Regions from separate parts of the Homo sapiens genome. Here region 1 is linked to region 2. Evidence: fine-mapped expression QTL. A gene starts in region 2. The other region holds a variant in brackets. All regions are shown on one strand. Distances are between the middles of the regions. Region 1 overlaps PTK7 (protein tyrosine kinase 7 (inactive)). Region 2 holds the start of PTK7 (protein tyrosine kinase 7 (inactive)).

Region 1 (5,233 bases), 61 kb after region 2:
CCTTGCTGTGCTCTGAGAAGGAGGCCTGTGGCATTTGAGAGTGTGTGATGCAAACAGGGCCAGATCAGGTGCTGGGTGTTAGAGGGTAGAGCCCAGAAGACGGAGAGCTCTGGGAATGCATTCAGTCAACAGAGATTTGTCGAGCACCTTGTGCTAGCTCTTCCCAGTACTGGATGCAACTGTGAACAAAGCAGGCAGAAGCCCCTCTCCTTGTGGAGTTCATATTCTAACAGCGGGGACAAAGCCAGTAAGAAAAACTATCAAATGAACAAATATAATTTTAGGTGCCAGTAGAACAAGGGAGAACAATGAAATAGGGCAAGTGATAGAGAAAGGGCAGGGCCAGTGAGAGTTTAGGGAAGACTTCTGTAAAAGGTGCATTGGAGTTGGTATTTAAATTAAGAAGGGAGCCAGCCATGTGATAGGCCCTGAGATGGAAATGGGCTTGTATGTTGGAGGAACAGTAGTCGCCTGTGTGGCTTGAGTTGAATAAACGATGGTGAGAGGGGTTGAAGTTGCCTGAGAGGTGGAAACTAAATCCCATAGGCCTTGTAAAAGCATAGTAAGGACTTTGGCTTCGGCATCAGTTATCCATTGCTACATAGCAAACCACTTCAAAACGTGGTGGCACTTTGGGAGGCCGAGGCAGGTGGATCACTTGAGGTCAGGAGTTTGAGACCAGCCTGGCCAACATGGTGAAACCCCATCTCTACTAAAAATACAAAAATGGCTGGGTGCAGTGGCTCACGCCTTGTAATCCCAGCACTTTGGGAGGCCGAGGCAGGTGGATCACGAGGTCAGGAATTCGAGACCAGCCTGACCAACGTGCTGAAACCCCGTCTCTACTAAAAATACAAAAATTAGCCAGGTGTGGTGGCATGTGCCTGTAATCCCAGCTACTCAGGAGGCGGAGGTTGCAGTGAGCCGAGATTGCGCCACTGCACTCCAGCCTGGGCGACAGAGCGAGACTCTATCTCAAAATAAAATAAAAAATACAAAAAAAAAAATTATCCAGGCATGGTGGCACATGCCTGTAATCCCAGCTACTTGGGAGGCTGAGGCAGGAGAATCGCTTGAACCTGGGAGGTGGAGGTTGCAGTGAACAGAGATCGCGCCACTGCACTCCAGCCTGGGTGACAGAGCAAGACTCCAACTCAAAAAAAAAAAAAACCAAACCGTAGTGACTTGAAACAACAAACAACAGCCGTTGACATGCTTATGATTCTGTGGACAGGTTCAGGTGGGCCCGCTCGTCTACCTGGTGTGCTATCGGCTGGGTGTACACGTTTGCAGTCAGCTGATGGGTGAGCTGGCCTGGTCCCTGGCGGCCACACTCACCTGTCTGGCAGTTGACTGGGGCTATTGACCAGGGTGCCTTAGTTCTCCTCCACATGGCATCTCCAGTAGGCTAGCCAGGCTTCCTCACCTGGCAGCTGGGTTCCGAGAGGGCAAAAGTGGAAGCTGCAGTACTACCACTGTGTTCTGTTGGACAAGGGAAGTCACAGGCCACTCAGATTCCAGGGACTAGAAAAATACACCATGACCCAGTTCAGTGGCTCACGCTGCAATCCCAGTATTTTAGGAGGCCAAGGTGGGAGGACTGCTTGAGCCTAGGAGTTTGAGACCAGCCTGGACCACATGGCCAGACCCCGTCTCTACTAAAAATAAAAAAAAAATTAGCTGGGCCTGGTGGTACGCGCCTGTGGTCCTAGCCACTTTGGAGGCTGAGGTGAGAGGGTTGCTTGAGCCTGGGACGCTGAGGCTGCAGTAAGCCATAGTGGCGTGACTGCACTCCAGCCTAGGTAACAGGATGAGACCCTGTCTCACACACACAAAAAGAAATAAACTCTACCTCTTGATGGGAAAGTGTCAACATCACATTGAAAAGAGTTGAAAGGGATGGGAGGATTGTTTATAACTATCATTGCAAGCAGCCTACCACACCACATTGGATGGGAAGGTCTTGCAGGGTTTTGAGTGGAAGACTGATTTTTCAGAAGATCGCTCTGGCTGTTTTGAGACTAGAATGTTAGGGCCAAGAGTATAAACAAGGAGACCCATACTAAGTAGATGACTATAATAGTCTAGGGGAGATACTGAAGGAGCTTGAACAGAGGCAGTAGCGGTGGGGGTGAGAGGTGGTCAAATTCAGGATATATTTAGGAGCCCCAGTAGATAGGGTTTGGTAGAACGAGTGTGATGGGGGTGGGGTATAGAGAGAAGACAAGGCTAGCTTTTTGGCTTTCTTAACTGACTAGATAGTTCTATTGACTGAGATAGGGAAAATGAGTGAGCAGGTTTTGGGGGAAGTCAGGTGTTCTCTTTAGCACACGTAAAGTTTGAGATGCCTGTTGGATATCCAGTTGGAAATGCCAGTAGGCAATTGGATTTATAGGAATCAGGATGTAGTTTTGGGAACCAACCATTCATGTTGTATTGAAGGTTGTGGACTGGATGAGTGAGTGTTGCTAAAACAGAACAGATTTCTGAGGACTGCGCCTTGGCATTTTATGGTGTAATAAGAAGAACAAGGGTTTCAGAGTCATATAGACCAGAGTTTTAAATTCTGTCACTATTAGGTATTAGCAAATCACCATTACTTCTTCTTTTTTTATTATTGTTATTATTATTTTTTATCTTTTATTTGAGATGGAGTCTCACTCTTTCGCCCAGGCTGGAGTGCAGTGGCG[T/C]GATCTCGGCTCACTGCAACCTCCACCTCCCAGGTTCAAGCGATTCTTGTGCCTCAGCCTCCCCAGTAGCTGGGATTACAGGTGCCCGCCACCACACCCGGCCAATGTTTTTGTATTTTTAGTAGAGACGGGGTTTCACTATGTTGGCCAGACTGGTTTTGAACTCCTGACCTCAAATGATCTGCCCGCCTTTGCCTCTTAAAGTGCTGGGATTACAGGCGTGAGCCACTGTGCCTGGCCACCATTACTTCTTTGAACATCTGTTTTCTTAGCTGTAAAGTGCGTGTTGGAATACATACCTTGGGGGGTTTGTTTTTTTTGTTTTTTTAGAGATGGGGGTTTCACTCTGTTGCCTAGGCTAGAGTGCAGTGTCTTACAGCAGCCCTCCCGCCTCGGCCTCCCAAAGTGCTGGGATTACAGGTGTGAGCCACCACTCCCTGCCTACCATAGGGGCTTATAACTAAGATAATGTTAACTAAGTTAATTAATGTGACAGTTAACTAAGATAATGTTCAAAAGGTGCTGGTGGCCGGGCGTGGTGGCTCATGCCTGTAATCTTAGCACTTGGGGAGGCTTGAAGCCAGGAGTTTGAGACCAGCCTGGGCAACATAGCAAGACCCCATCACTACAGAAAATAAAAAAATTAGCCAAGTATTGTGGTGCATGCCTGTGGTCCCAGCTATTTGGGAGGCTGAGGTGGGAAAAATCACTTGAGCCTATGAGTTCGAGACTGTAGTGAGCCATAATTGTGTCACTCTACTCCAGCCTGGGTGACAGAGTGAGAACCTGTCTTAAAAGAAAAAAAATTTTAAAAAAGGTGCTGGCACCTGGGTCTTCCGTAAAGGGAAACTCCTGCCATCTGAGGAGCATGGGGCTTCTGAACTCAGGGCCTAGAATGGTAGTAGGATTTCTTGGAGATGGATCCTTTAGTTTTGGAGACCTGTGAAGCAGCCTTCACTGTTTCCTTCCTGTCTGTCTAGCTGTGCCCTCCTGGCTGAAGAAGCCCCAAGACAGCCAGCTGGAGGAGGGCAAACCCGGCTACTTGGATTGCCTGACCCAGGCCACACCAAAACCTACAGTTGTCTGGTACAGAAACCAGATGCTCATCTCAGAGGTGAGAAAGAAGAGTGTTGCTAGTGGATGGGCGGGGCCTTCCCTCCACTTGCCCTCTTCTGTGCTCACCTCCATAGCACTCTTACCCTGGAGGCAGCCTCCAGGGAGAGGTGGGTGTGGGTTCAGGCTCTGAGGCCTCTCACCTGTGCTGCAGGACTCACGGTTCGAGGTCTTCAAGAATGGGACCTTGCGCATCAACAGCGTGGAGGTGTATGATGGGACATGGTACCGTTGTATGAGCAGCACCCCAGCCGGCAGCATCGAGGCGCAAGCCCGTGTCCAAGTGCTGGGTGAGCCAGCATGTCTTGGGGGAGCACCCTTCCTGGCTAGGCAGGAGAGGAAAGGGGAGGGAGCAGCAGGCCTGGCCACGGCCTCTCCAGCGGCCCCAATTCCTCGTCTTTCTACCCACCCTCTGCTGAAACAGAAAAGCTCAAGTTCACACCACCACCCCAGCCACAGCAGTGCATGGAGTTTGACAAGGAGGCCACGGTGCCCTGTTCAGCCACAGGCCGAGAGAAGCCCACTATTAAGTGGGAACGGGCAGGTGGGTACAGTGCCGGCATAGGGTAGGGGCAGGCAGGCAGTTCACTGATCAGATACATACCTGAGGGCTGCTGGGTGCCCCGCACTGTGCCAGGAAATGTGGAGATTAGACAAGCAGTGCAGGGCTGATGTATAGTTTAGTTAGGAAGGAAAAAGCCAGACACAGAAGAGGTCAGATTATAGCCTTGGACAACATGGAAGACAACTCAAGGCAACAAGTGATTGGATTGGTTCAGACAGTGCTGTAAAGTCCTCTCTTCCCCTTTTCCAAAATAGTTTATCTTTTCCAACATAAAAATTACATGGAGGCCGTGCATAGTGGCTCACGCCTGTAATCCCAACACTTTGGGAAGCCGAGATGGGTGGGTCACTTGAGGCCAGGAGTTTGAGACCAGCCTGGCCAACATGGTGAAACCCCATCTCTACTAAAAATGCAAAAGTTAGCCAGGCGTGGTGGCACATGCTTGCAATCCCAGCTGCTTAGGAGGCTGAAGCAGGAGAATCGCTTGAACCCAGGAGGTGGAGGCTGCAGTGGGCCGAGATCATGCCATTGCACCAGAGTCTGGCTGACAGAGTGAGACTCTGACTCAAAAGAAAAAAGAAACAAAAGTTACATGGGCTCCTTTACAAAATACTGGAAGAGGCCGGGCGTGGTGGCTCACGCCTGTAATCCCAGCACTGTGGGAAGCTGAGGTGGGTGGATCACGAGGTCATGAGATAGAGACCATCCTGGCTAACATAGAGTAGTGAAACCTCGTCTCTACTGAAAATACAAAAAATTAGCCAGGGGTGGCGGCACGCATCTGTAGTGCCAGCTACTCGGGAGGCTGAGGTAGGAGAATTGTTTGAACCCAGGAGGCGGAGGTGGCAGTGAGCCGAGATTGTGC
Region 2 (5,233 bases):
AAAGGACAGCCAGTGAGCAAGCCCAGTGGAGTAAGGGAAGAGGGAAGGGAGAGGAGTCATCTGGGATGAAGATGAGCCAGGGGATTGCAGTCATTAAGGAATCAGGCAGATAGCTTGTGGTGAGTGCTGACCACCAAGGGACAGTTTCAGGCCAGACATAGTAGCAAATAAGTTAATAAGGAGGGAAATAGGAATATTCTGTAAACTGGTACTTTGGAATTATGAATAATTTAAGAATTATTTGGAGATACGAATTATTTTTTCATCCTGCAGCCGCCTTAGTAGTAGATGAGAATGGAAAAAGAAAAGTATTAAATAATCCCCATCTGAGAAAACACTAGTGATATTTTAATGGCAAATGACTTCTTGTATCAACACACAAGTATATGCCAGTATTCATGTGGTTCTTCCAGGTAGCTTCTCCACCAGATTGTGGCCTTCTGGAAAACCCTAGCAGAGGCTAAACAAAGTCCCAGGTCCAGAGATAGACTGGTCCAGAGACAGATGTGATCCTAGGTCCAGAGATACACTGTGACCATGGGATGGATGGACTCTAGGAGCCAGTCTTTGGGAGGCCGAGGTCCCTGAGCTGATGGGGTAGTGTTGTCTGTTTCAGGTCTCCCGGGGCCTCAGTGCCAGCACCATGGACCTCTCTTCAAGCAGCTGACATTCAACCCGGCCCCCAGGTCTGCTGGGTCCCCCCACCCCCACAGCCCTCACAGCATTCCCCATTGCTCCTGGCTCTTCCCCACCCCTAGGTGGGACAGTGAAGGGGAGCAGTTTAACCAGAAGATTGCTGCTGCCCTTAGGGTCTCAGCTCCCTCCTCAGGAATCCCTCTTAGGAAGGACCCTCAGGACACCCTCTCTGCACCCTGTGGTCCTCTAGAGTAGCTAGCTCTGAGGCCCCAAGGTGGGTACAAAGCAGGTATGGCCCTCAGAGATGCAGCCTGCTGCTGGCTTTTCAGTCAGAGGGTTGGGGGCTGGCCAGCCAAGCTGCCTTGCCCTGGCCGCTCTTACTCCCTCCCTCTGCTGTCTCACTTCAGGTCCATGTATTTCACTTTTCTTAAATAAAAGAATCAGGTAACCTTTCTGTGACTTGAGTCCTGATTGAAGAGGGTATGAAGCAGGGCTTGTGTTGGGGCCCTTCACAGAAGGTGAGGGGCAGTGATGGATGGAGCAGCAGGAGGAGTGTTGATTCTTGGATCTCTCCTCTCTTCCTCCCGTTGTTTGTATCATCTCCAGCAGGGCCTGTAGGAAGGCATCTGGGGGATGGGGAAGAAGGAGGCTCACAACCCAAGGAGAAGGTGCTGTGGACTGGGTTGTCAGGGACATGTGGTGGCCATGTGGCAGGACCCTGGAGTCCTGGCGCCACTTCTCCTGGCTGTGAGGCCCTCTGTGGCTGCCATTCCTCCTCCCAGCTGCTTGGGGGAAGGGAGGTCTAAACAGGCCTGGGGGGCCCTCCGGAACCAGAGGGGAGACAAGGCACTATCCATCCCCTCTCAGCATATCTTGGAGGCCTGAGCAGCAGCTGGGGCCCATCTTCTAAAGCTTGACTCCTCCTGACCCGCCTCCTACACCCCTTGCTGCTTTCACAACAAAGAAAGAATGTGGGGGTGGTGGCGCTGGGGGTGGGGGTGCCTGGAACAAGGGTTGTGCTGGGCCTCCCCACAGCTGGAGACTTGGCCATACCCTGACACAGCCCAGACTGCCTGGAGATGGACTTGGGATGAATTTGTCAGTTAGCAGACTTCAGCCTGGCTTTCAGAGCCCAGCGTGTTTCTACCTTTGGGTTCAGATTGGTCTACAGCCAAACCAGACCCCAGTCATGCACACTTCAGCCCCTCTCCGGGCTACACAGCATCTTCAGGTTACTTGGGGACATTAAGGACACCCTGCTGTTCTGGGTCTGCCGTTAAGATTTTGGGTTGCTGAAGAGTTGGCGGGGCCCGCCTCTTCCCCTGCCCCCACCTGGAGAATTCTGGGGGAACTGTTGGCCAGAGCCTCCAGGTATGCCCAGAATGGACCATTCTCCCCAGGGTCCACGGAATCGCACAAGTCACTTAGGTTCTCCCGGATCCCTGCAGAGTCGGTGGTGGGTACAGCAAATACTCAGGTCCCCTGCACTTCCCTGAGCCTTGCTCTCTCTATTCTCCATCCCTCTCCAGACCCCTCCCCCTACTGAGCTCCTCCCCGCCTCGGCGAGGAGGGGGCGTCGAGGGGGCGGGGCGCCGTGCGGGGGCCGGAGGGGAGGGGGCGTCGTGGGGCGGGGCTTGGCGGCGGCGGCGGCGGCGCGCGGGGACTCGGAGGTACTGGGCGCGCGCGGCTCCGGCTCGGGACGCCTCGGGACGCCTCGGGGTCGGGCTCCGGCTGCGGCTGCTGCTGCGGCGCCCGCGCTCCGGTGCGCTCCGCCTCCTGTGCCCGCCGCGGAGCGCAGTCTGCGCGCCCGCCGTGCGCCCTCAGCTCCTTTTCCTGAGCCCGCCGCGATGGGAGCTGCGCGGGGATCCCCGGCCAGACCCCGCCGGTTGCCTCTGCTCAGCGTCCTGCTGCTGCCGCTGCTGGGCGGTGAGTACCCGAGAGTTGGGGGCACAGAGCTTGGGAAGCGCGGGAGTCCCGTGGGCAAAAGGCTGCGCCCGGGGCGGTGGGTTTGGGCGGCTGGAACGGCCCTGGAGTAGTGGAGAGGCTCGCTGGGGGTGCAGGCTTGCGGCGGAAGGGCGCAAGGAGCCCGGGTGTCGGGAGGCTGGCGAAGCCTCCAGGGACGCGGTCAGGGTACCCCTCCCACTCGCGCCGCGGGGACGCATTTCCAGCCTCCCTGAGTTTTTCTGGTCTGAGCCGAGAGTTTGCTCGAGAACTGCCGAGAGTTGCTGGCTCTCGGGCCCAGATGGGGAGTTTCTTGTCGGGGGAGAAAAGACCATCCGCACCCACCGTGGGGAGCGCGATGGAGAAAAAGGAATTCCCCACCCCACCCGGCAGGGTCGGCCCAGGTAAGAGTTGCTGGTTTGGGGCCCGATGCCGGACAGACCTGCGGCGCGCAAAGCGCGGAGCTTTGTTACCTACGCCGACCCGACGTTCCCGGCTTCCCTCCTCCGAGTTCCTGGGCAAAGCTGAGACCCCAGATGGCCCTGCGGGTGAGGGCGGAAGAAGGGAAGAGTTAGGGGCCGCCCCCATCCATGGCCTCTAGCTACTGGTCTGGAACCCTGCGCCCACTCCGTGCCAGGGCCGAATCCGGGGATCCGAGGGTCCCAGGCTGTCGCGGTGACTAATGTGTGAAGGCCGCTGCCAAAATCGGGCATGGCCTGGCTGCAAAGGTGCGGACGGGGTTTGTTCTGCTCCTTCCTGGATTTCCATCCTGACTGTCCTCACAGAGGAAAGGAAGTATTTCTAAGGGAAGAAAGGCAAAAAGAGCTCATTCTGGCTTTTCTTGGGGGGGGGCCTTAGCATTTTAACGAGGGTGTGGCCCTCATCACCAGGGCAGACAGCACCGCCCCCCCAACTCCCGCAGCTTTTATTTCCTGGCTTGGTCACACCTAAGAGTCATCACTGAGGTGTTGAAGTGCCTTACAGGAAAGCACCAAGCCACCCGCACATCCCAAATAGCCCGGACTGGAAATAAAGCCCCCGACCCTCCACAACACTCCTTGGTGGTCCTCGAAGCAGCTTTCTCTTGGGGAGCTCTGTCGAGGAGACCTGTCCTAGGTGATCACCTTCCATCTCCTTTGAAGGTGGCAATGGGAAGGGCATGGGTAAGGAATTGCCTTTCTAATATCTTTCTGGCCTGCCAGCTGTGGAGGGGTTTTGGTGCTGGTGGAATCAACATCTCCCCTGCCCCCAGTTGTAAAAGGAGAGGTAAATGTAACCCAGGAAAGAGACCAATCTCCAGGGATTTGGAGGAGGTGTTTCTGGAGTTGCCCCGTTTTTCTTGTGATGTGTGTGGTGGTTATTGCTCGTGGCAGAATCCACATCTGCTCCCAGAGGAAGTATGGAAGTTTTTTTGCACAGCCAGGATGGGGGCCCAGCCATCTGGGCGAGCAGCCCAAGCTCACAGGCCCCCTGGCTGTCCTGGTTGGGTTTTGGTGTGTGGGTCTGCCCAATGAGGCTGCCTTCACTGCTGCTGTTCAGGGTACTAGAGTCAAGGGGAGTTTCTGGTGAAGATGGGGCTCTTGCTCAACAAATGCTGAATTCCTAAATTCCTTCCATGAGAAGATGACTCTGATGTTAATTGACTTAATCTGGTGACTGGTTGGTGTTTAGTGTGTGTGCGCGCGTGTGTGTGGGGGATCCTGTTGGGGGAAGTTAGGGCAGGCTGAGGGCTTAGGACAGGAGGTCTGTAGTCTCCTCAGGGGTGGGGGGATGTCTTGTGCTCAACAAAGGAACATTTTAATGAGAGCCTTAAATCAATTCCACCAAATGTGCCTTGTTGTGGAACCTGTCCATGTGCTGTAAACAATTTCAGTGGAGGCCGAGGCGCCTGCTGTCTTCTAGTGAAATCCTGGGACTCAACCCACCCCCAGACGCATGACTTCAGGGGCAACGGTTTTTTAATAGATCACAGTAGATGTTTGCATCTCATTGTTTAATTGTGTAATTAACTGGAGTTGTAGTGAGATCCCACTGTTAATAAGGCTGGAGTAAGGAACCTAGGCTGGCTAGGTTTGTGGATTAGACCATTTTAAAGTCTGGGTAATTATGCCATAAATGGCAGAGTTACTTTCCAAACTTTGAGATGCTGTTGTAATAAATATGGTGGAGGAGGAGGAGGCTTGATGTTTGAAACTATGGATTCTTAACCCCAACCTCTTGTACAGTCAGCTGTGGTCACTTCTCATTCCAATTCCCATCCCCCTCCCTGGTTTCTTTCCTCCGGGCTCTTGTTTCTTTGGGGAAATTGAGTCGTCATGTTCTGGGATAGGCTGTCTGCAGATTCCTCAAGGCTCTGCAGCCTGTAATTCAGGCCTAGGAGTTGCTTTTATTAGTGATGGCTTTTCTCAGCTGTTGGGAAGTATGGTGGCAGGGCAAGGGTGCTCTTCTTGTCACTTGTCAAATGATATACTCAAACTCCTGGTGTTCAGAGCAGCATTGAGTGGTGGACAGAGCTCAAGCAATGGAGATAAAGTATGGTCCTTCCTTGGCATCTGCAGGGAATTGGAATAGGACTCCCTGAGAATAACAAAATCCAAGGGTGCGGCCAGGCCTGGTGGCTCACGCCTGTAATCCCAGCACTTTGGGAGGCCGAGGC

The links. PIP is the estimated chance that this variant, and not a neighbour inherited with it, causes the effect.
Region 1: its variant is the best candidate, but not a certain one, in a credible set for the expression of PTK7 in coronary artery (GTEx, PIP 0.83).

The regions. Positions count from the first base shown.
Region 1 is chr6:43,135,179-43,140,411 of GRCh38, forward strand. PTK7 (protein tyrosine kinase 7 (inactive)) reads left to right here. Exons shown (of 20, transcript NM_002821.5): 8 at 3,671-3,804; 9 at 3,958-4,093; 10 at 4,228-4,347. Among named protein-coding and RNA genes, the nearest start is that of SRF, 33 kb to the right of the region's middle. The variant T/C (reference allele first, on the strand shown) is at 2,691.
Region 2 is chr6:43,074,006-43,079,238 of GRCh38, forward strand. It overlaps PTK7 (protein tyrosine kinase 7 (inactive)), which reads left to right and starts at 2,309. Exons shown (of 20, transcript NM_002821.5): 1 at 2,309-2,562. The coding sequence starts at 2,484. KLC4 (kinesin light chain 4) reads left to right here. Exons shown (of 16, transcript NM_201521.3): 16 at 617-1,088. The coding sequence ends at 667. KLC4-AS1 (KLC4 antisense RNA 1) reads right to left here and starts at 2,225. Exons shown (of 2, transcript XR_002956347.1): 1 at 1,690-2,225; 2 at 328-1,262. RefSeq lists an enhancer at 1,444-1,967 and a silencer at 2,297-2,396.